Linked DNA regions of Homo sapiens. The protein of the gene in region 3 purifies or fractionates together with the protein of the main gene of each other region. This does not show direct contact. Each region holds a gene or a part of one and is shown on either strand. Other genes may lie near its edges. The genes, in order: KIF23, LARP1, APOBEC3D, YTHDC1, ATXN2, SLTM and ZC3H11A.

What was found.
Region 1: the proteins of APOBEC3D (region 3) and KIF23 purify together in Homo sapiens (affinity purification with mass spectrometry; 2 studies listed by BioGRID and IntAct, with this or other methods). This does not show direct contact.
Region 2: the proteins of APOBEC3D (region 3) and LARP1 purify together in Homo sapiens (affinity purification with mass spectrometry; 2 studies listed by BioGRID and IntAct, with this or other methods). This does not show direct contact.
Region 4: the proteins of APOBEC3D (region 3) and YTHDC1 purify together in Homo sapiens (affinity purification with mass spectrometry; 2 studies listed by BioGRID and IntAct, with this or other methods). This does not show direct contact.
Region 5: the proteins of APOBEC3D (region 3) and ATXN2 purify together in Homo sapiens (affinity purification with mass spectrometry; 2 studies listed by BioGRID and IntAct, with this or other methods). This does not show direct contact.
Region 6: the proteins of APOBEC3D (region 3) and SLTM purify together in Homo sapiens (affinity purification with mass spectrometry; 2 studies listed by BioGRID and IntAct, with this or other methods). This does not show direct contact.
Region 7: the proteins of APOBEC3D (region 3) and ZC3H11A purify together in Homo sapiens (affinity purification with mass spectrometry; 2 studies listed by BioGRID and IntAct, with this or other methods). This does not show direct contact.

The regions. Positions count from the first base shown.
Region 1 is NC_000015.10:69,438,349-69,441,848, reverse strand, and holds part of KIF23 (kinesin-like protein KIF23), read right to left. Parts: coding exon 3,444-3,500; intron 1,946-3,443; coding exon 1,772-1,945; intron 1,542-1,771; coding exon 1,362-1,541; intron 1,082-1,361; coding exon 770-1,081; intron 1-769.
Region 2 is NC_000005.10:154,796,877-154,800,376, reverse strand, and holds part of LARP1 (la-related protein 1), read right to left. Parts: intron 787-3,500; coding exon 618-786; intron 505-617; coding exon 335-504; intron 1-334. UniProt on the Homo sapiens protein: RNA-binding protein that regulates the translation of specific target mRNA species downstream of the mTORC1 complex, in function of growth signals and nutrient availability.
Region 3 is NC_000022.11:39,024,127-39,027,626, reverse strand, and holds part of APOBEC3D (DNA dC->dU-editing enzyme APOBEC-3D), read right to left. Parts: intron 2,558-3,500; coding exon 2,278-2,557; coding exon of another isoform or gene 2,071-2,277; coding exon 1,956-2,070; intron 1-1,955.
Region 4 is NC_000004.12:68,326,091-68,329,590, forward strand, and holds part of YTHDC1 (YTH domain-containing protein 1), read right to left. Parts: intron 1-3,500. UniProt on the Homo sapiens protein: Regulator of alternative splicing that specifically recognizes and binds N6-methyladenosine (m6A)-containing RNAs.
Region 5 is NC_000012.12:111,487,816-111,491,315, forward strand, and holds part of ATXN2 (ataxin-2), read right to left. Parts: intron 966-3,500; coding exon 661-965; intron 1-660. UniProt on the Homo sapiens protein: Involved in EGFR trafficking, acting as negative regulator of endocytic EGFR internalization at the plasma membrane.
Region 6 is NC_000015.10:58,923,680-58,927,179, forward strand, and holds part of SLTM (SAFB-like transcription modulator), read right to left. Parts: intron 1-3,500. UniProt on the Homo sapiens protein: When overexpressed, acts as a general inhibitor of transcription that eventually leads to apoptosis.
Region 7 is NC_000001.11:203,840,623-203,844,122, reverse strand, and holds part of ZC3H11A (zinc finger CCCH domain-containing protein 11A), read right to left. Parts: intron 1-3,500. UniProt on the Homo sapiens protein: Through its association with TREX complex components, may participate in the export and post-transcriptional coordination of selected mRNA transcripts, including those required to maintain the metabolic processes in embryonic cells.

The DNA.
Region 1 (3,500 bases), on a different chromosome or scaffold from region 3:
TGCAGTGAGCCATAATCATGCCACTGCACTCCATCCTGGGTGACAGAGTGAGACTCTGTCTTTAAAAAAAAAAAAAGAAAAGCCAATCCAATTTTGGGACAACTGCACAATGTCTCAATAGAGGATAATTAATTAATGTTGATTTTCTTGGATGTGATAAAGATTGTGGCTAGGTAGTACAATGTCCTTATTCTTAGAGATTAAGTGTCTCTAAGTCTGTGATTTCCTTTCACAAGGCTTAGGGGAAAAAGGTTTACATATCTATATCAAGTAACAATTGGTAAACTTAGGCAAGGAGGGAAAGACATTACCATACTATTCTTTCTACTTTGCTTTGGGTCTGAAATTTTTCAAAATAAAAATTTGGGAAAACAATTTTTAAAACTAGGGCATGAAAGGAGGTATAAAAAATCTAATTTGGGGAAGGGGAACCAAAAGAAAAATATGGAAAGTATGCTTTAAGACACATTCACCAATTCTGTGCAAAGCTTATTAGCGTATGCAGCTGAAAAGCTCAGACTACTCTGGGATGCACCAAACTGACCTGTGTTCACTGAACACACTTCCGCTGCCAGATGTGTTTAGGCTTTTTCAGATGAGGAGCCAGGCCTCAATTTCCGTAAGTCAATCTTTCAAATTAACTGAGAAATTAGACCTTCTTTATACTATAGCCCAACCATTTTTCCAATGAACTTTCAGACACAAGTTACAAAAAACAAAGAAGATAAAATCTATTGCTACAATGCGTTAAAATAATACTGGCACTAACCCTGCCGCAATGATCCTCTTCTATTTCTATCTCATTTCTGAATGTAGGAACCACCTCCCTGCCTTCAGTCCAGTACATCCCTCGCCTTCTGTCTGACACGATACAAGTTTTGCTTTGTCCTGGCTCCTGCTGCCTACGCCTTGCAATAGATGTGACTTTGAGAGGTGTGTTGTACGTAGGAATTTTCTGCTCCCATTCCGAAATACAGGAAGCTACAGAAATGCTGCTGCAAGAGTTAGAGCGCCTATGTAGCTGTGGCTGGCTCATGAGTTGCTGGCCGTTGGAAATCTGAGCAATATAGTTACTAGAAAGCTAGAAAAATTGGAGAAAAATTAATGAGCAAGACTGAAAAACTGAGAGAAACAATTCATTACTTTTCTATAATGTTAGCACATGAAGACTTAACATTACAAATAATTATTTGTTCTATTTTTTTGTGCTAAATTTGTGTTTATTCTAAATTTTAAAATATTTTTAGAGAAATTTCAGAAATGTAAGTATTATAAAATGTAAAAATCCTCATAGAAATAGTCATCTAATCTGAACAAAATTTCTCTAGTACAAAGTTACTACACAATTACAAATAACTTACAGGCACAGGTGATGGAGAAACAGATCTTTGAGTAACTTTTTCTCGATCTCGCTCCCGAGAGGGTCTCTCTGGCTTCTCAGTTTTAGGTTCGGTAACAATAGCCTTCAGTTGTTTCAGCTTTTCATCTTTAACCCAGAGTTTATTCTGCATCTCCAGCTGTTTGGCTGCCACTCTACGCTCCTACAGATTATCAGTGGCAATGTATATTATCATTCCATCACAGCAAACGAGTACACCAGATTACCCAATCTCTTTATTTCCTAAAAATGACAGTTCTCCAATTCTTCCTGAGAGTTAACAACCACCACCAAAACCCTACCGCAAATACAATAATTCAAAATATCGAACCTAACTACAATGTAAAATAAATCATCCGACTCTGAGACAAGCACTACCCAAACGATACTCACACATTCTTTCTCCCACTTCATTGTCGTTTCTGTCACCATGCCTTGCAACCTGGCTTCTAATCTGCGTTTGTCAGAAAACTGTCGCTGAAGTTTCTGGTTCTGAGTTTCAAGTTCCTGTTGCAAATTGCGTTTATCTTCCTCATAGATAGTAGTTGTTTTCTCTAAAATCTCAATCTAGGAAGGTAGACCACTATGTTCAATATTTGGTATATAAACATTTCATGTCGCTATAAAATAGTCTTCCTTAATTTGCTTATGCAAGCATATTTGTGGAAAGAAACATCATGGAGAAAGCACTTTTTTCTCTAACATTTCATCTGAATTCCCACCCCCATTCTCAGAAATGAAAACATGTTAAACAAGCTCCTCACCCAAAGACATTTACAACTAACTTCATGTGAAAATTACTTTCTCCTAAAATTAAGGGCTAAAATTTAGTTTTTAGGCTATTTTCAGAATTTAAAAAAACTATATTGGTTGAGACTAACTTCTCTTATGAATGTGTACCCCCACCAAACCTCTAAATGACCCTCTGTAAATGAGAGAACAGACATACATTACACAGTGCTGCAATGCTTCCCAACAAAACGGTATTTCCTTCTACCCCATTGTAAGAGATTAATCCTGAGTTTATACTTTTACAATCGATTTGTAAACCAAATACAGATCCAATTAAGCTTTACTGAGTATCTGTTACGTCCAAGGCCCGATGCTGGCACTTTTATACCATTTCATTTAATCATTTATCTCATTAAAAAAAAAAAGCATACTAAGGAAATATTTCTAATAAATTCAAAAGCAAGCTACAACCAAAGCTAAGCTCTAGAAAGCTCCCTTGTTTGGGTCAGAGAACATCCTTTTCAACTGTTAAAACTCTCATAAAATTAAAGAACATATGATTCTTCATTTCACTCACATTTCCTCCTTAGCATGGGATGAGGATTAGTAAACAACCAATTGAGAACTTTTTTTTTTTTTTTGAGACAGGCTCTCGCTCTGTCACCTAGGCTGGAGTGCAGTCGTGCAATCCCAGCTCACTGCAGCCTCAACCTCCCAGGCTCAAGCTGTTCTCCCATCTCAGCCTTCCGAGTAGCTGGGACTACAGACATGTACCACCATGCCTGGCTAATTTTTTTTGTAGATATGGGGTTTCGCCACGTTGCCCGGTCTGGTCTGGAACTCCTGGGCTCAAGTGATCTCCCTGCCTTGGCCTCCCAATGTGCTGAGACTACAGGCATGAGCCCCCGCACTCAGCCTGAGAACTCTTTTTTTTTTTGAGACAGAGTCTTGCTCTTGTCGCCCAGGCTGGAGTGCAGTGGCTCAATCTCGGCTCACTGCAACCTCCACCTCCCCAGTTCAAGCGATTCTCCTGCCTCAGCCTCCTGAGTAGCTGGGATTACAGGCACTCGCCACCACGCCCAGCTAACTTTTGTACTTTTTTAGTAGAGATGGGCTTTTGCCATGTTGGCCAGGCTCGTTCTTGAACTCCTGACCTCAGATGATCTGGCCACCTCAGCCTCCCAAAGTGTTGGAATTACCTGCATGAGCCACCGCACTCAACCGAGAACTCTTAATAAGCAGCATTTACAGGCCGTTGGAGCACAATATCTCCCTCAGAGAACAGTGCTAAAACACCAGCACATACATCTATCATAATAATGTCAAAACAAACCTTATATTCTAAAGTTTTGTTTTTCTTTTCCAGTCGTTCTATTTCCAATTTCTGTCC
Region 2 (3,500 bases), on a different chromosome or scaffold from region 3:
CAGCCCCAGAAATTTAGATGGAGCAAAAAGAAGAGCCAAGAATCAAGAAGCCAGAAACATCGCTGCCAGATGCTGCATGATCCCTTAAGAAAAATGTCACCGAGGAACTCACACAGTAGGGCGCCCTAAAGGGTGGTTCCCCACAGGAAATGGAAACAAGCCAAATCAACCTTTCTGTAGCCACTACTGGTAACTTCAACTCACACTATGATCCTGAACTACCCAGATTTCCTGCTGGCCCCTCAGAGCTAGAGTGCTGTGCCCATGTGTTATCCCCTTCAAGCACCCTAGCTCAGAGTGCTAGAACCAAGGCAAGGGACAAGGCCTCACCCACCTTGGGCCGTGCTGGGGATGGCCGAGGCCTCTTCTTCACTTCAATCCAGTTCTCAGAATCCAGGTCAGGCAGGCTGGCAGACAGGCCCTTGGGTAGTGTCTTTAGGTTGCTGACCTCCTCTGTTTTGGTTGGCACTGGGGTGACTGCACGAGGAGAGCCAGGTGCCGACTCTAAAGGGTGGAAAGGGGAAGTCCTCATCCCTCCAGTCCTCCTCCTGATGCCAGCCCTGAGGAGGACTGTTGCCCAGAGGACAAGGGCAATCTTCATGCCAGCAGGTACCTACCTGTCTCCTTTTGGTAGTGCTGACGGGGAACAAATTCAGGGCAGTTGAGAAGCTGGGAGAAATCAGTCTGTGAATAATCCACTATTGGGGGAAGAGGCCACTTTTCTGGTTCCTCCCTCCTACGAACTTTCTCATCAACGATCTCCACCACCTTGCTGTCCTTTAGGGCCTGAAGGGGAGGAGAAGGAAGAGGGGATTAAGAAGAAAATCTTGGACAGAAAGATCTTGGAAATGGTAGACAACTGGGTTCCCCTGAGCTTGGTATGAGTCCAATGCTACCAGTAATATAAGAAAATTGACACCATCTTCCACGACTGGTAGATAATGTGAGATGTTCAAACTTGTAGGAGGTACCAGCATAATAAATACACCTACCCTTTTACTCTTTGAGCCTGCAATCCTACTTCCAGTAATCTGCTCTAGAGAACACTTGCACAAACAGGGAGCAGTATGTATAATATCTGGACAAAAAGCCATTCACAGTAAAACTAGAGTAGAAAAAGAACTATAAAATACCTAACTTGCCATCGCATAGGCAATTTAAATATTTACAGCATATGCATGATGGAACACTACTCAGACATTAAAAAACTTTACAGGTCGGGCCTGGTGGCTCACGTCTATAATCCTAGCACTTTGGGAGCCCCAGGCAGGCAGATCACAAGGTCAAGAGATTGAGACCATCCTGGCCAACATGGTGAAACCCCATCTCTACTAAAAATACAAAAATTAGCTGGTTGTGGTGGCACACGCCTATAGTCCCAGCTATTCGAGAGGTTAAGCAGGAGAATCGCTTGAACCCAGGAGGTGGAGGTTGTGGTGAGCCGAGATGGTGCCACTGCACTCCAGCCTGGGCGACAGGGCGAGACTCCGTCTCAAACAAACAAACAAACAAACAAACAAAAAAACAACCAACTTTACATGTGCTGAGGTGGATAAACCCACAAAATATTAATCAAAAAAGCAGGCTGGGTACAGTGGCTCACACCTGTAATCCCAACATTTTGGGAGGTCAAGGTGGGTAGATCGCTTGAGCAAAGGAGTTCAAGACCAGCCTGAGCAAAATAGCGAGACTCTATCACTACAAATCGTAAAAAGGTGGCGCTGGCATACATCTGTGGTCCCAGCTACTTGGGAGCCTAGATGGTTGAGGTTGCAGTGAGCTTTGATAACACCACTGTACTAACTCCAGCCTGGGCAAAAGAGCAAGACCTAGTCTCAAAAAAACAACCAAAACATCCATCTATAGGAGCAGCAGTTGAAAAAACATGGAGCATTCCACACAATGGTGAACTATGCAACTGTACACAGGAATGAGGAATATCTTTCTATTATATACTGCTACTTTGCAGTTAGCTCCCAGATATATTAAGTTAAAACAAAAAAGAATTGAAGAAATGCCATGTGTTGTATATTTCCATTTACCAAGGATACAAATACATGTAGAGGCATTTGCTTTTTTCTTAAATGGAAAGGTTCTAAAAAGTTTGCCTGTAAGAGAAGAAAGGGTGTAAGTGACAGAATTTAAGTCAGACTTCTATGACTATACCATGCTGAGACTCTAGAACCACGTAAATGTTTTACACAAATGTAAAACAACTTAGAAAATTATAGGGGTAGGGAGAAAGCAATCTCTAAAACTTGGAAGCAAAATAAAACTAATATATATATCAATTTAAATGTGAAACCACACAAAGATTCTTTCAAATGACTTGAAGATACTGTATAAGTGGAAAAACTGTTTTCAGTGGTAGTGGAGGTATTGTAAGAATGTAGAGCTTGGCACAATGGCTCACGCCTGTAATCCCAACACTTTGGAAGCCGAAGTGAGAGGATGGCTCAAGCCCAGGAATTTCAGACCAGCCTGGGCAACACTGCAAGACCTCATCTCTACAAAAAATTTAAAAATTAGCCACACGTGGTGTGCACCTGTAATCCTGCTACTCAGGAGGCTGAGGCAAGAGGATTGCCTGATTTCAGGCGGTTGAGGCTGCAGTAAGCCATGATCACACCACTGCAATCTAGCCTGTGAGAGCAAGACCCTCTCTCTTTAAAAAATGTTTAAAAAAAAAAAAAAAAGACGGTAGACATACTGTGAAATAAAACAAAATGAGTAATTATGTTGGTATCATTAGGAATTAAGATTATGGGCATGGAAGAAAGCAGTAGGTAAAATAAAAGATCCACAAGTCTACGTAAAGACCCTTTAATAGAAAATACCAGAACAGGCCGGGCGCGGTAGCTCATGCCTGTAATCCCACCACTTTGGGAGGCCGAGGTGGGTGGATCACCTGAGGTCAGGAGTTCGAGACCAACCTGGCCAACATGGTGAAACCCCATCTCTACTAGAAATACAAAATTAGCTGGGTGTGGTGGTGCATGCCTGTAATACCAGCTACTTGGAAGGCTGAGGCAGGAGAATTGCTTAAACCTGGGAGGTGGAGGTTGCAGTGAGCTGAGACCATGCCACTGCACTCCAGCCTGGGCAACAAGAGTGAAACTCTGTCTCAAAAAAAAAAAAAAAAAAAAAAAAAAAAACAACAACAACAAAACAGAATAACTCCATGATGTATTTTATCTCACCAAAAAACAAAAAAATCATCTAGAAAGAATGACCAACCAAGTAGCAATAAAGCACCCCTATAACTCAGACTGGTATCTAAATACCATTTCCCAAAAGAAAGGAACTAGAATTCCTTTTAAAAGTGGCCAATTCCAGATCTGGGGCAGGAAATGTATAGGGTCCCACTGACCAAAGGTGGGACAATTTGATCCAATCCATTAACTGCAATGGACCAAAATAAATACGTTTGAGCCCATAAGCTTATAATAACAAATGATACGAAAACAAACCACCAAATCTCACTGGTCACCTATGAAACC
Region 3 (3,500 bases):
TAGCCTCCCTGGCAGGCTTGTCCTGGCCCTGATTTTAGTCCTGGGCTTGGGTTCTATTTCTATCGTCCAGGGCCCTTGTTCCAGGAGACACCTGCGCTGTGAGTGACCTCCCAGGCCCATCTGAGTGCAGGCCTCACTTTATGCTGCTTTCTCACCTGGATGGGAGGACCTCCGGAGGGACCCCTGGATCCTGCCCTCAGGAATCATCCCAGGGACGCCCCCCACCCGGTAGCTATGTGGTAGGGAGGGAGAGTGAGGGGCAGGTGTCTGCTTCCCCCTTGCCTTCACACTCAGAGGCCACCATTGGAGGGAGGAATAGTGGGTGGGGGTGCCCTCAGATGTCCCCCCAGGATGCCATGCGTGCCCCCACACTGAGCTCCTTCCTTCCACATCTCCTGCCCAGAGTTGTTCCCTGGCAGGCTGAGCTCTTGTCCCTATGTCACAGAAGGGCGGAGGCTGGTGTCCCCGGCCACCCTGTCTTGCAGTTTGCTCCTCCGGTCTAAGACCCAGGTGCTCAGTTCCCATCTCTCCCGAGGGCCTTAGATCTCTTTCTAGGGCCTCTCTGGTCCCTGGTTGCCCTTTTCTGTTGTGCTTCCTGGAGAGCTCCTAGCATCTCAAGCCTCCCATGATCCAAGCCTACTCTTTTGTAAAATCTTACTCAACACCTGGCCAACATTGCAAAACCCCGTCTCTACTAAAAATACAAAAATTAGCCGGCATGGTGGCATGAGCCTGTAATCCCAGGTACTTGGGAGGCTGAGACAAGGGAATTGCTAGAACCGGGAGGCAGAGGTTGCAGTGAGCCGAGATCGCACCACAGCACTCCAGCCTGGGCAACAGAGGGAGACGCTGTCTCAAAAAAAAAAAAACAAAAAAACCTTACTCAAATGGGACCTTGATCACTGAGTGTTTGCTTGACTCTTTCTGCATCTCCATCCCTGTGGGAGGGATTTGAGAAGGGACAGGCGTGAGCCGGAGGCCCAGCTAGGTGCTGTTAGGTGGGGAAGCCATGGTCTGGAGGGAGGGGCTGTGGGAGTCAGGGCAGGACTCGCCTGGGAGACAGACACACAGAACGGGGACCCCTGCACACCCCACCCAAGCTTGACCCAAGCCCCCTGGGTCATTGTCATGGGCTAAATTGTATCTTCCCTACATTGACATGTCGAAGCCCTCAACCCCACCTCCTCACAGGATAACTGTATTTGGAGACAAGTACACTAAAGTGGTGATTAAATTAACTCATGGCCCTTAGGGTGGGCCCTAATCCTGTCTGACTGGGGTCCATAAACAAGGAGGACATTTAGAGGCAGAGAGACCCCAGGAGTGCAGGTGCACAGAGGAAAGGCCAGAGAGGACAGGGCTGGAAGGGACCCCCTGCCAGCCAGGAGGAGCGGCCACAGAGGACACAACCCCACCCACCCCTCCACCTTGGACTTGCAGCCTCCAGATCTGTGAGAAAATAAATGCCTGCCCTGTGGGCACCCGGCCCGGGGGCATCTTCTATGGCCGCGGAAGCCTGAAGCTCTGTTTCCATGGTGGCGGCTCCTTCTCAGGGGCTCAGGTCGGCCTTGAAGGATGTTGCTCAAAGCTTCCGACTGTCGGGCTTGTGACTATTCATGCCCACTTACTACGTCCAGTTTTATGACAAATTCGGTTATGCCAGGGAGATAGAAGGAGCCAGGTTGGGGCTCCCAGGCTGTGGGGAGGGCAGCCTCGGGGGTGGATGGAGGTCGCTCTGGAGGCAGAAGGGGCCTCTCACTCACAGGAAGAGCCCAGGAAAGCAGGGGGGAGGCACCAAGGTGGAGGGAGCATGAGGAGTGTGGGTGAGGGGGTGTAACCATGAGGGCAGGCAGGGGGGCAGGACGGAGGGCAGGAGGGCCCAGCCAGGGGAGTCCTCAGGAGGATGAGCAGGAGGCGAGAGGAGAGAGACGATGAGGCCAGAGGGAGACCCTCACCTGAGAATCTCCTTTAGCGTGCGGTGCAGGGATGCATAATTGTCATCGAATTTGTACCAAGGCATGAATGGCTGACCTTCATTGCACACAAAGTTTTCCCAGCAGTATGCAAAGTCTGAGATGAAGAGGTGGGAAGCACTCAGGCTCTCCCCTGACCCTGGGCCTGCCCTCCCAGGCCTGGTCTCCTGGCTGTCAGTTGCAATCAGTGCCAGCCCCACCCCTGCAGGCTGCCCTGGAACACCCCCAGCCATGGCATTGCAGATCCATCCATCTCTGAGGCTGTTCCTCCCCGTCATGCTCCCCTGACCCCTGCACCTCTCACCTTCATAGTCCATGATCTTCACACGGGCCCCTGCCTTATGCAGCCTGAGGAGCACCCACCGCCAATCTCTATCCCGGTAGTAGTAGAGGCGGGCGGCAGAGATGGTCAGGGTGACATTGGGGTGCTCAGCCAAGAATTTGGTCACCTTCACCACACAGGGCAGGCAGGGGTTCCATGATACAAACCAGGTGATCTGGAAGCGCCTGTTAGCAGGCAGTCGGTTGCCACAGAACCAAGATAAGAAGCACATTTCTGCGTGGTTCTCAAACCGGAAATACACCTGGGAGAGGAGCAGGGGCAGGGGAAGCTCTGGGACGGGGGAACAGGAGGGGTGCGGGGTGGGGCAGGGGGAGGAGGGGCCAGGACAGGAGCCCAGGGGATCTTGCCATTGAAGCTCCTTTCCTCCATCCCCCCTGTTTGGTTTGAGTGATTGTCTGCTCCAAGCTGACCTTCAGTGTTAATTGCTATGGTACTGGCCTTAAGAGGTGGCACCTAGAAGAGGCTATGAGGCTGTGGGGACTGCACCTTTGTGGGTGCCACTGCTGTGGTTATTCAAAGGTGACCTCAGCCCCTCTTTCTGTCTCTTGCCCTCTAGCTGGGGGGGCAGTATGTCAGACTAAACTGCTTCCTCTTGTCCCCATGTCACGGAGCACCAGTGACTCGACATCCCAGGCCACTCTGTCTGGAGCATCCCCTGAGCTTCTGGCAACAACCTTCACCCCCATGTGACTGTGCAGCTCGCAGGCCCTGGAAAGTTGCTGGTGCCTTGACGTTGGACTTCCTGGAGTCCAGAACTCGAGCCAACACATTTCTGTTCACTGTAAATGTCCCCGTCTCAGTCCTGCTGTTGAAGCATCACAAGGTGCACCAAGACACGTGCTTCCCTGTGTTTGGAAGTTTTCCCAGCCCTGTTCATGGCCTCGTGTGTGAATTCTGGCATCCATTCTCCCAGGCATCCATTCACCAGGCATCCTCAGCCCCTACTGTGTCCTGGCCCTCTGGGGTCCGCCTTGTTCCCCACTGGGGAGGCCACTGGACCTGCGCTGTCCCATATTGGGGGGCACTGGCCAAGGGCGCTACTGAGCATCTGAAACAGGGCTCTGATGAGAGACCTCGGCACATCAAAAATACACCACTCATTTCAGTGTGAGAAGAAAAAGAAACTTCACTATCTCGCGAAGAATTTTATGTTAATCAGCGTTGAAGTAATATGTTAGCTACAC
Region 4 (3,500 bases), on a different chromosome or scaffold from region 3:
TAAATGAAAACCTACAGCCACCAAAATATAAGAAGGTTATAAATTAATGGGATTATCACTGTTATTTAAATATCAGCAATTAAATACCCACGATCCAAGTAGAAGTAAAAGCATAGGCCAAGCTAAATGTATCATTTGGGGTTGAGATTCTTTGGTGGCACTGGTTCCAACTAGATTCAAGAGACATCTGTTCACTGTTTCAACACAGTTAATCTCAGCCAGAACATCACAGAAAACTGTGAAGCCTGAGGCAAAACAGGGCTCAGAATAAATTAAGAAAAATTGCAGGGTCTGTGATCCATGTAGCATCCTTATTTTATCCTTTCTTCTCAGATCACAATCATAGAACAAGCAACCTAACAGTTACCTTCTGAGCAGCTATGTTATGAAGCATACAGATACAACTTATCTTTACTGTGAGTTCTTTGAGAACATGTAAGGGACTCTCTGACCTAAGTGGTTCTGCAAATAGGGCAAATTTAACAAAGAATGTAAAACTGTGCACAGTTTTTTGTTTTGAGACACAGTCTCACTCTGTTACCCAGACTGGAGTGCAGCTGCATGATCTCGGCTTGCTGCAACCTCCGCCTCCTGAGTTCAAGGGATTCTCATGCCTCAGCCTCCCATGTAGCTGGGACTACAGGCATGCGCCACCACATCTGGCTAATTTTTGCATTTTTAGTAGAGACGGGGTTTCACCATGTTGGCCATGCTAGTCTCGAACTCCTGGCCTCAAGTGATGCACCCACCTCAGCCTCCCAAAGTGCTGGGATTACAGGCATGAACCACTGCGCCCAGCCATGCAGAGGCTCTTATATGCTGGACAGTGGTTTGTTGATTAAAGTTAAAAAGAAAAATGGAGGCCGGGCGCAGTGGCTCATGCCTGTAGTAATCCCAGCACTTTGGGAGGCTGAGGCGGGCGGATCACCTGAGGTCGGGAGTTCGAGACCAGCCTAACCAACATGGAGAAACCCCGTCTCTACTAAAAATAAAAAATTAGCCGGGCGTGGTGGCACATGCCTGTAATCCCAGCTACTAGGGAGGCTGAGGCAGAAGAATCGCTTGAACCCGGGAGGCGGAAGTTGTGGTGAGCCGAGATTGCGCCATTGCACTCTAGCCTGGGCAACAAGAGCGAAACTCCGTCTCAAAAGAAAAGAAAAGAAAAATGGAGAGACTCTAAATGAAAACAGAAATGGGTTGTTTGGAATGGACATGAAAGGAATATAACACCTAGTCAGTAAATGTAACTCTGGATGAATAGTATTTCATAGATCATGCCTTATTTTGAGCTAATTACAGGTGGCAACCTTAATAAGTCGCTTTTTATGCCTCCCTCTCTTTATCAGCTAAAACATGACACTTATCTGGTCCCAATCTTCCATGTGCCTACCAACTACCTGAACCATCAAGAATTTAACAGGTTTGAGGTGGGTTTCAAGATTCTGCATTTTAACAGTCAGATGCTACTGATGTAAGTGATCCAGGGATCACACCTAAAAAAGCTTAAGTCTAGTTATTATTATATCCAAAGGGTCCTTAAATATAAATCTAATAATTATTATATCTGCAAAAGAAAAAAATATTAACAGCAGTTACTGTTGATAGCAAAGTCCTGACCATTTCTATTTATTAAATTTAAATGTTCTGAGACTCAAATGTAATTCTCACTATATAGAGAGAATTTAAACTCAAGAGAGTTCAAGTGACTTATCTAAGGAAATATCAATGTTAGAAATATCACAAGCCCTCCAGAACTGTAAAGTATTGTAAAATTACACTTGAATAGAACTTGAGTATTAAAACATTAAAACTATAGTTTTATTATGTAAAAATACTATTTCTAGGTAAACCCATAAACTTACTTTAAAATAATAAAAGCACTTTACTGCCCACAATTTTACACCTCACGTTAGTAGGATAGACAAATTGAGTCTGTCTACCTCTTCGGTTGCTTGATACATTTCAAACAAATTAGTAGAATAGTCAATAAGTCAATGAAGAGGAATATGAAGAATGAATAATCCATGAAAAATTAAATTCATCTTAAAATTAAGAATTTCCTTATCAGTAATGTAAAAATGAAGGTTAACAGAACAAATAACATTTGAAACAAAATCTGCTGCAACCCACATAAAAATGGGCAATTATTTTCTCTCCTGTTCCCAAGAAAGCAACACCTGCAAATATGTTACATTACAACGTTTCCTCTGGCCTTTACAGAGCAGTCACATACACACACAAAATAAAAATAATCACTCCCTTTCCTACAAATTGTCACCAGATTTTCAACTTTAATTATAACTTAATTATAATTTTGATTTCAAAAAAACCAAGTTTATATTTTAAAACCCCTGGGGGCAACAGAGAGGAAGTGGGAGAAAGCACTAACAGTCTCACCACCTAACACTGCATTCCAATACCATAATTATGTATTTTTTCATTTGTTATACCTTTCCATGTTGATATGTGCACAATTACTTCCACATATATTTAAGAGACAAACTATAATTTAACTAATTTTCTATTTCAAAGAATTTAGATGATTTCCAACTCTTTCCCACAGAAAGTAATAATGGGATGAGTATTTTTTCTGCACATAGCTTTTTGCTACGCTATTATCAACCTAATACAGTTATGTGTCACTTAATGACAGGGATACACTCATTAGGTGATTTCATTGTGTGAACATCACAGAATGCACTTACACAAACCTAAATGGTATAGCCTACTACATACCTAGGATATATGGTATGACCTGTTTCTCCTAGCCTACAAATCTGCACAGCATGTTACTGTATTGAATAGTGTAGGTAAATGTAACACAATGGAAAATACTTGTGTATCTAAACATAGAAAAGGTATAGTAAAATATGGTATTATAGGTACCTCTTACGAGTCCTACAGTCTTATGGGACAAGATTCTTTGTTGATGGGTATGTCACTACACAGTAAGTGACTGTATGCTATTTGTAATATATCACTCCCTCTATCTTCACAGCTCCTCACTATCCTACAATAAACATTTAGGCTGACTCACATTCATTCATTCTTATCCATCTTTGCCCTCTGTTCTTCTCTTTTCCTAACCATCTCCTTCATAAAAAAAGGTAGCTCCCTATCCCACTCACACATCCATATGCCCTCCCACTGCTCCCCACAACCCTGCAACCCCATAGTTTGTTTCCATGCTCTTCTTGGCTTAGGCTGATTTCCATCATATGCATAGCATTTTTCTTCTTTTTCATCCGACCCCTTCAGGCTCATCAAGATCTAATACCCAAAAACAACTTAAAACTCACAAAGTAACCATCTCCTTTCAGACACTTTTTAACTAAAATTAATTTTACAGGTAATACATTTGTGTATGCCACGTAAAGATCACTTAAATAATGAGCTTCTTGTGTACAATACTTCAGTGTGCAGTAAGGACCTAAAAATAGTGACAACTCAGTGTTCAAAATAAGCCTGATTATTTTTCTAATAAATACAGTTAAATCTTA
Region 5 (3,500 bases), on a different chromosome or scaffold from region 3:
GGAAAAAGTCATGGCTGTAAAAAAAAATTGCCTCAAATCAAGAATAAGCAGTCCCCAATTTATCAATAAGCTGCATTCCAAAACTTCAGCTTTAACTGGATTGTTTGGTACCCAAACACCTAAGTCAATGGTAGTTAAGTTCTGAGGTTAGCCCCTAAAAGTCCATTTAATTAATATACTGAATGTGCAGAATTAAGTCTATCTTAACAAATCTAAACATTAACTAAAACACAGTTTCTGATGAAAAATATTTTGAATTCCAAGTAGAAGCACCGCATGCTTCTCTCCTTGACAGTGGCAGTTTTTCAACCTAGCAGCACAGTGAGGGTGACTAATGAGTGGAATCCAGTAAAGATAGGTCCCCTGAATTGATAATTTTTCAACTCCTGTTCATTTACAGAAAAACTTTTCTTAATTTATGCCTTGTTTTTCTAGCCCTGGGGTACAAAAAAGGGGAAGAACAGAAGAGTAGCACAGGGTGCAATAACCTCATTTACTTAAGATGTCATTTGTTTGGACTAGCTGTTTGTAAACTAAGGGCAATGTATAAAGTAGTCTAAAAGTCCAGATGGATTCTTCACAGTTGGAAGGACCTAAATGCCTTTAAAAAAAAAAAAGTTAATTGAGTAACAGGATGGTCTAAGTTCCAGGTTTACTCACTCAGCTGCGTCTTTCTTCTCTTCCTTATCGTCTTTCTCTTGTTTACATGCTGGGCTGGAAGTCTGAACCCCTTGGGAAGTGACCTCAGGTCCCCTCTTGTGCTCCGTGTTACTAAGTATTGAAGGGGAAATGCTGGGGCTATTCGGCTTGCTGCTGCCACTGGTACAGTTGCTGCTGCTATTTTCAATGAAAGAATCCTTAGCACTTGGTTCAATTTTGTCTTTGATCAAATCTCTTGATTTTTCTCCCTCTCTATTTTTGTTTAGTAGTTGATCCATAGATTCAGAAGTAGAACTTGGCTGTAACTAAATAAAGGAAACAATTATACTTAAATATCTTAAATAACTTTAGTAATACATTTTTGCCATGAGCACAAGCTACGTAATATTAACTATACGCATGAAATGTTCTGAATAAGGCTTTTTTCATACTTTAAGAGTAATGCTTTTACTATAAACTAACAATAACAGAGTACCTATATAGCACAACCACAGTCACCAAAGCACTCAAATGTCCTAGCCTCTAAAGTTCAATATTTACTGAGTGCTTACCACATGTCAGAAATTGTGCCTGCTGGGTGAGAAAAATATGAAATAGTTTCTATCCTCTTATACTTGTCATTTAAATAAGATCAGACACTTCACAATAAAATGAGTAAATGCTAAGAGAGTCTATAGAAAAAGCAACCTATAAAAAAGAAAGGTTTCTCAGTAAAGTGTCAGCTAGTCTAAGGTGTGAAAGAAGTTTAGGAAAGGTGTTGGGATGGAGAATAGTCTAAGTAAAAGGAAGAGTATGTTTAAAAATCCAAAGAAAAGGGAGAAGCTGGCTCTATCACATAAAACAATAGCACCAATGGGGGCCGGGCACGGTGGCTCACGCCTGTAATCCCAGCACTTTGGGAGGCCAAGGCAGGCGGATCACGAGGTCAGGAGATCGAGACCATCTTGGCTCACACGCTGAAACCCCATCTCTACTAAAAATACAAAAATTAGCCAGGCATGGTGGCAGGCGCCTATAGTCCCTGCTACTCGGGAGGCTGAGGTAGGAGAATGGTGTGAACCTGGGAAGTGGAGCTGCAGTGAGCCAAGATCACGCCACTGCACTCCAGCCTGGGTGACAGAGCGAGACTCCGTCTCAAAAAAAAAAAAAAAGATAGCACCAATGAGCTGGGCACAGTAGCTCATCACTGTAATTCCAGCCCTTTGGGAGGCTGAGACAAGCAGACTGCTTAAGCTCAGGAGTTCAAGACCAGCCTGGGCAACATAGTGATACCCTGTCTCATTTAAAAAATAATAATAAAATAAAATAAAATAACAAAAATAAAGAAGTAAAGAAAAGCACCAATGGCTGGACCAAGGGTGAGACACACATGTACAAGTGAGTCAGAAAATGATAGACTCGTCAAAAGGAATATGACAATAAAGGAACTTAAAAGCTATGTTCAGGGCTGCGTGCAGTGGCTAACACCTATCATCCTAGCACTTTGGGAAGCCAAGGCAGGTGGATCACTTGAGGTCAGGAGTTTAAGACCAGACTGGCCAACATGGTGAAACTCCGTCTCTACTAAAGATAAAAAAAAAAAATTAGCCAGGCGTGATGGCACACGTGTAAATCCCAGCTACTTGGGAGGCTGACATATGAGAATTGCTTGAACCCAGGAGGCGGAGGTTGCAGTGAGCCAAGATCACACCACTGCACTCCAGCCTGGGTGACAGAGCAAGACTCCATCTAAAAATTAAAAAAAAAAAAAAAAAAGTTTTAAAAAGCTACGTTTAGGACTTTGGCTTTTAATTCTCAGGGCAAATGGGCAGTCTATACGGAATTTTAAGTAGGGTAGAGTACTGGGCAGATTTATAGTTCAGAAAGGTGAACACAGCAGCTTTGTGTGAAATGAACTGGAGGGAGGCTAATTAGGATGTGGAGGGACCGTCATGGAGGCTGGACTAAGCGCTGGGCCTAGTCAGCTTGGAAGGTCATTAAGTAGGTGAATTCAGAATGAGACCTGACTGTACATATTGGTCAGTTAGACATTCTAAACCCCTAAGTAAAAAAAGGAGATGGCAGGGGAGAAGAGACAGAGCATGGTGGCCAAACAGAACCTTCCAGTGATCATCCCCAACAAGGAGCACCAAATTGAACAACTATCCACACAAGAAAGCACCTTCATAAGAACCAAAAATTAGGTAAGCGATCACAGTACCCAGTTTTGACATCCTATCAAGGAAAAAGACACCAAAAAAGATAAGGAAGATAGTCTTGAACTGCCCCTCCAACACCCCTGACATTCCCCCACAATGCAGTGTGGGGTGGAGAAAGAATCTGTGTGCTCGGGGGAGAGAGAGAGAAATGACTGTGGGATTTTGCATTGAAACTCAGTGCTGCCCTGTCACAGTGGAAAGCAGCATAGGACAGAATTCAGCCAGCACCCACAGAGGGAGTATTTAGACTAGCCCTAGTCAGAGGGGAATTGTCCATCCCAGTGATTAGAATCTGAATTTCGGGCTGGGCACTATGGTCTGTAATCCCAGCACTTTGGGAGGCCGAGGCGGACGGATAACCTGAGGTCGGGAGTTCAAGACCAGCCTGACCAACATGGAGAAACCTCATCTCTACTAAAAAACAAAAAAATTAGCCAGAGGTGGTAGCGCATGCCGGTAATCCCAGCTACTCAGGAGGCTGAGGTAGGAGAATTATTTGAACCCGGGAGGCGGAGGTTGTGGTGAGCTGAGATTGCGTCACTATACTCCAGCCTGGGCAATAAGAGCGAAACTCTGCCAAAAAAAACCAAAAGAATCTTAATTTTGGTAAGCCCCACCACCGTGGGTAAAGTCCTCTGGGGT
Region 6 (3,500 bases), on a different chromosome or scaffold from region 3:
ACTAAATAGTTTCACCTCTTTTGTCCTACAGGGAATCTAGCAACTGCCGCAAAACTGTGAAAGTGGCATGACCAGGATAAAGGAACTAACTGAAAGTGTAAGGCAGATTGAAGCCAAACCTTTTTTTTTTTTTTTTTTTTTTTTTTGGAGACACTGTCTCGCTCTTCTTGCCCAGGCTGGAGTGCAGTGCAGAGGCGCTATCTTGGCTCACTGCAACCTCTGCCTTCCGAGTTCAAGCAATTCTCCTGACTCAGCCTCCTGAGTAGCTGGGATTATAGCCTCATGCCACCACACCCAGCTAATTTTTGTATTTTTAATAGAGACAGGGTTTCATCATGTTGGCCAGGCTGGTCTCGAACTCCTGGCCTCAAGTGATCCACCGGCCTCGGCCTCCCAAGGTGCTGGGATTAGAGGCGTGAGCCACCACGCCTGGCCTGAAGCCAAACTTTTACGCTTTGAGGAAAAAACTACAAAATAAATTGGGCAGTAAACATAATCTGAATAACAAAATAAAAAATGAAAGCAAGATTAACCTATCACATCCTAAACTATCATAGTAGTAACATAGCTATTTTGAAATGACAAAAACAAAATCTAAAATATAACTTGCATGATTTGAGGGCCTAAAGTAAAATGGCAAAGTAAAAACGTATATACCAGAGAAAGACAAGACTATAAACATTTATGTAGCATAAATTTGTATAAGCCCAAAAATTCTTAATGAAACCCTCTGAGATATGTTTCAGAATTCACAATTTTCAGATTTTAGAAGAGTAAAACGTTGCATATACTATTTATTAAGTTAAACCTCCCAGTGGCTTCTGGAACAGTATTTCACAATCACAGAAACATTTTGTGCAATGAAATGTAAGCAGATTCACATCAAATGGGATAAGTCAAGACTATAAATAACTTTTGCCACCAAACTTAAGAAGAAACTTTCAGTTTTCAGAACTTTTTGTATTTGAGAATTCTGAGGATTTTGGATGATAAATTGGCTTTCTCCTCCAAAGGCAAATTGGTCTTTATAAGGGTTTGCAATTTTCCTTTTCCTCCAAAGGCAAACTAGTCCCTATAATGGTTTGCAATTTTCCTTTTTAAGTTCAGAAATACCTCCCAAACAAAAACAAATCCCACTTAATAATTAGTTTCTTTTCTTTGAGACAAGGTCTTGCTCTATCGCCCAGGGTGGAGTGCAGGGGCAGTCATGGTTCACTGCAGCCTCAACCACCTGGGTCCAAGCAATCTTCCTGCCTTGGCCTCCCAAAGTGCTGGGATTACAGGCGTGAGCCACTGCTCCCAGCCTAAGGAAATTTTAAAATCATTTTGCCAAAATACTTTATGGCTGAGTAACTTTTCCCCTTAAACATTCACAAGAGCTACGATAAAATGTTAAAAAAAAAAAAAAAAAAAGCTTAGTTATAAAATTTCTGTTGCAAGGGAGGGGAAGATTAAGAAGATATGCCAAACTGAAATGTTTCCAGCAACAACCTCTTCCCAATTGCATGGAGTATCTTAATCACAGGCCATGCCTTGTATTGTTTGCAAGTGTTTTAGCTTCTCTTCTATTAAACTGACATTTTACTAACAAAATCATTTTTCTGAAAGGCCTTGCACATTGTCTTAAACACAACAGTCATACAATAGGTCACTCTGAGTTTTTTGTTTCTGTTTTTGTGGCAGGGTCTTACTCTATTGCCCAGGCTGGAGTGCAGTGGCACAATCTCAGCTCAGTGCAACCTCTGCATCCTGGGTTCAAGTGACTCTCCTGCCTCAGCCTCCTGAGTAGCTAAGGTTACACGTGCCCAACACCATGCCCAGCTAGTTTTTGTATTTTTAGTAGAGATGGGGTTTCACCATGTTGGCCATGCTGGTCTCGAACTCCTGACCTCAAGTGATCCACCCGCCTCCACCTCCCAAAGTGCTGGGTTTACAAGAGTGAGCCATCCCACCTGGCCCAATAGGTCACTTTGAAAAATTACTACAAAGATAATTCACATTCATTATAATAAACCTAGAATATGCCAAAGGTATATTTTTCAAATATCTTACATTAATTATCTAAAGATGAACAGAATAAACAATTCCGGCACACTCCTTCAGGCAGGTGTGCCTACAAACACAAGACTGTCAAAGGTAATTTAACTGGGTTCTTAATGAATTACCTTTCTATTCTACCAGTAAAAAGAAAATAGTCCTGCTTAACTCTCAGCACCGTTGTGAGAATCAAATAAAGCAATGTAGAAGTTTTCCGAAAACTGAAAAGTATATAAAATAATCTAGAAACTGACCAGCAGAGAGATGAATAAAAATGATGCTAAATTTCAAGCTTTAGTTTAGATTAGTTAGTTCTTAACTTCAGGTGTATGTAAGAATCACCTGGGGAGCTTTTAGAAAATACATACTGATGCCTGGGCCCCCAACATAACAACCCAAACCAACTCTATGGGGAGTGAAAGCCTGCTATCTGTATTTTTTAAAATTCAAATGACTAACGCAGAGTGCAGATCATGAGCCACTAAGACAAGTGAATCTATTTACAGAAGCTGTTGAGAAGAATATAGACGGAAGGTTATTGTTTTTTGATTCTCCAGACTACAGAAATATTTAAGTTCTATCTACCTTCAACAAAACACCATGTATGGTGTGAATCTATTTTAGTTGTTGAAAAGGGGGGAAAAAACCTTTAAACATAAACCTCCTGTAAGTACTTGCACATACACCTACACAACTTAGATCAACATGTGTTGTAATATGAAATGTGCTTTATGTGGTTGATTACTATATTAGATTAACTTTTAGAAAGCTTTACAGAGTAAACATGTACTTAATTATAAACATGTATATATATCATATGTAAAATGCTACATATGATAAATTCAGGGTGGTGGGATTACGGGTAATCTTCACTTTTTTGTACTTTTCTGGATTACCTTTTTTTTTTTTTTTCTTTGAGTCAGGGTCTTGTTCTGTCACCCAGGCTGGAGTGCAGCAGCACCATTTCGGCTCACTGCAACCTCCTCCTCCCAAGTTCAAGTGATTCTCCTGCCTGAGCCTCCAGAGTAGCTGGGATTACAGAACATGCTACCACACCTGGCTAATTTTTGTATTTTTAGTAGAGAGGGGGTTTCACCATGTTGGCCAGGCTAGTCTCGAACTCCTGACCTTGTGATCCACCCACCTCGGCCTCCCAAAGTGCTGAGATTATAGGTGTGAGCCACCGCGCCTGGCCAAATGTATGTTTTAATGGCTGCGATAAAAGGGCTAATTTTGTGAAATGAAAATGACATATACAACCTCTGAGGTTGGACAGTATTCCAGCAAGGTTCAGAGGCTTTTCAACACAGCATCAATGTGGTAAAGAATAAAAGGATGATGCAATGATTCATGTGTTCTAAAAGTAAGTATATTTTACATATCAATGTGTAAGGAGAAGCCATTATGCTCTTGAGAGAGGCACCTTTAAAAAAAAGATAAAAACTATTAATCCCTGATATACC
Region 7 (3,500 bases), on a different chromosome or scaffold from region 3:
CACTTTGGGAGGCCAAAGTGGGCAGATCATCTGAGGTCGGGAGTTCGAGACCAGCCTGACCAACATGGAGAAGCCCCGTTTCTACTAAAAATACAAAATTAGCCGGGCGTGGTAGCGCATGCCTGTAATCCCAGCTACTCGGAAGGGTGAGGCAGGAGAATCACTTGAACCTGGGAGGCAGAGGTTGCAGTGAGCCGAGATCGCACCATTGCACTCCAGACTGGGCAACAAGAGCGAAACTCCATCTCAAAAAAAAAGAAGAAATCCCAGGCCGAGAATAAAGAAAAAAAAATAAGAGAACAAAGAAAGTTCTTGAAAAATAAAAACACCAAGTGCCAAAATAAATTCATATGAAGGACTGGATAATAAAGATAAGGCTGGCCCCAAATCAGCCATTTAAAAAGGCATAGGCAAACTATATATAGCCCATATGGCCACCACCTAATTTTGTAAATGAAGTTTTGCTAGAACACACCAGCAGTCATTCATTTACATATTGCATACATATGCATATGGCTGCTTTCATTCTACAATGGCAGAGTGGGGTAGCTGCAATACTGTGGACTGCAAAGTTATTTATATCCGACCCTTTACAGGAAAAAAATTGTCAATTCCTTGTCTAAAAAATAAAGTTGAACAAAGCTCACAGAAGGTTAGCCAAAAACAAAGAAACAAAAAGTATACAGAGACATGCAGGCATATGTCCCAAAGTTCCAACATCTATCTAATACAAATTTCACAAGGAGAAAACAAAAAGAAATGTGGGGCAGTCATACTCAAAAGAAATTAATGTTTTCTAGAGCTAAAGACAAATCTTTAGATTCAAGGGCCCACTGAATCAGTATTTATGTATTTACTGAATCAGTATTTATGATAAATACTGATTATCATAAATACTGATTTAGCAGAATGAACAAAAATGATCCATGTTTGATCCACAACAGTGAACCTGCAGCATACTAGGGAGAGATAAAACCCTAGAAATCTCTGAATAATTCAGGTTGCATACAACAGAATAAGAATGTCCAACATCGGACTCCCTTTTTATGATGCTAATATAACTTTAACATCCAAATGAGATAAGGATGGGGGATAAAAAGTAACCTAAGGTGGCTAACAGCATTCATAAATAGAGATGTAAAAATATAAAATTTTTAAAAGCCTCAAACTGAATTCAGCAAGGTATTAAAAAAAAAAAGACGGAAGGCTGAATACATGGATGTTCATTTTATTATTCCTTAAACTGTACATATATATACTTATGTAGTTATATTTCATAATTTAAAAAATTTAAAAATTATAACACAGAAAGAATATAAAGAAAACCTCAATACCCAGATGACACCAATTTTATTTATATTCTCGTGTATTTTTGAAGATTTTTTTAAAGGTATATGTTTATATCTTTACAAAATTAGAATAATCTCATACATATGCATGTTTCTCCTGAGAATAAGTTTCTATAATAAGAAAATAAACTTAAAAAAAAAAAAAAAAGATTCCCCCTCCCCCTCCCCCTCTCCCCGGTCTCCCTCTGATGCCACCAAAGTTGTGAAAGCCAAGGCTGGACTGTACTGCTGCCATCTCGGCTCACTGCAACCTCCCTGCCTGATTCTCCTGCCTCAGCCTGCAGAGTGCCTGGGATTGCAGGCGCGCGCCGCCACACTTGACTGGTGTTTGCATGTTTTGGTGGAGACGGGGTTTCGCCGTGTTGGCCGGGCTGGTCTCCAGCTCCTGACCGCGAGTGATCTGCCTGCCTCAGCCTCCCGAGGTGCCGGGATTGCAGACGGAGTCTCGCTCACTCAGTGCTCAATGTTGCCCAGGCTGGAGTGCAGTGGCGTGATCTCGGCTTGCTACAACCTCCACCTCCCAGCCGCCTGCCTTGCCTCCCAAAGTGCTGAGATTGCAGCCTCTGCCCGGCCGCCACCCCGTCTGGGAAGTGAGGAGCGTCTCTGCCTGGCCGCCCATCGTCTGGGATGTGAGGAGCCCTTCCGCCCAGCCGCCCAGTCTGGGAAGTGAGGAGCGCCTCTTCCCAGCCGCCATCCCGTCTAGGAAGTGAGGAGTGTCTCTGCCCGGCCGCCCATCGTCTGAGATGTGGGGAGCGCCTCTGCCCTGCCGCCCCGTCTGGGATGTGAGGAGCCCCTCTGCCCAGCCGCGGCCCCGTCTGGGAACTGAGGAGTGTCTCTGCCCGACCGCCACCCCATCTGGGAGGTGAGGAGCGTCTCTGCCCGGCCGCCCCGTCTGAGAAGTGAGGAGCCCCTCCGCCCGGCAGCCGCCCCGTCTGCGAAGTGAGGAGCCCCTCCGCCCGGCAGCCGCCCCGTCCGGGAGGGAGGTGGGGGGCGCCTCCACCCGGCCACTGCCCCGTCTGGGAGGTGGGGGGCGCCTCTGCCCGGCCGCCCTATCTGGGAAGTGAGGAGCCCCTCTGCCCAGCCACCACCCCGTCTGGGAGGTGTACCCAACAGCTCATTGAGAACGGGCCATGATGACAAAGGCGGTTTTGTCGAATAGAAAACGGGGAAATGTGGGGAAAAGAAAGAGAGATCAGATTGTTACTGTGTCTGTGTAGAAAGAAGTAGACATGGGAGACTCCATTTTGTTCTGTACTAAGAAAAATTCTTCTGCCTTGGGATGCTGTTAATCTATAACTTTACTCCCAACCCCGTGCTCTCTGAAACATGTGCTGTGTCCACACAGGGTTAAATTGATTAAGGGCGGTGCAAGATGTGCTTTGTTAAACAGATGCTTGAAGGCAGCATGCTCGTTAAGAGTCATCACCACTCCCTAATCTCAAGTACCCAGGGACACAAACACTGCAGAAGGCCGCAGGGTCCTCTGTCTAGGAAAACCACAGACCCTTGTTCACATGTTTATCTGCTGACCTTCCCTCCACTGTTGTCCTATGACCCTGCCAATCCCCCTCTCCGAGAAACACCCAAGAATGATCAATAAATACTAAAAAAAAAAATAAAAAAAAAAAAAAGATTCTTATGTTGCCCTAAATCAGGAGGTCAAAAGTGGTATGTGCTCTCTGTTATCTTTCTTCACTTGATACAATGCAAGTTGATTTTTCCATATCGTTGTTCAGCATTTGACTTTTCATGACAGCAATTATTTTAGCACATAACTATCATAATTTTATCTAAACCCTTTTTATTGTATATTTAAGTTGTTTCTAATTTCCTACTATTTAGCCGGGTGCGGTGGCTCGTGCCTGTAATCCCAGGATTTTGGGAGGCTGAGGCAGGTGGATCACCTAAGGTCAGGAGTTTGAGACCAGCCTGACCAACATGGTGAAACCCCGTCTCTACTAAAAATACAAATATTAGCAAGGCATGGTGGCGTACGCCTGTAATTCTAGCTACTCGGTAGGCTGAGGCAGGGGAATTGCTTGAACCCAGGAGGTGGAGGTTGCAGTGAGCTGAGACCTTGCCATTTAACTCCAGCCTGGGCAACAAGAGCAAAACTCTGTCTCAAAAATAAATAAAATAAATAAATAAATA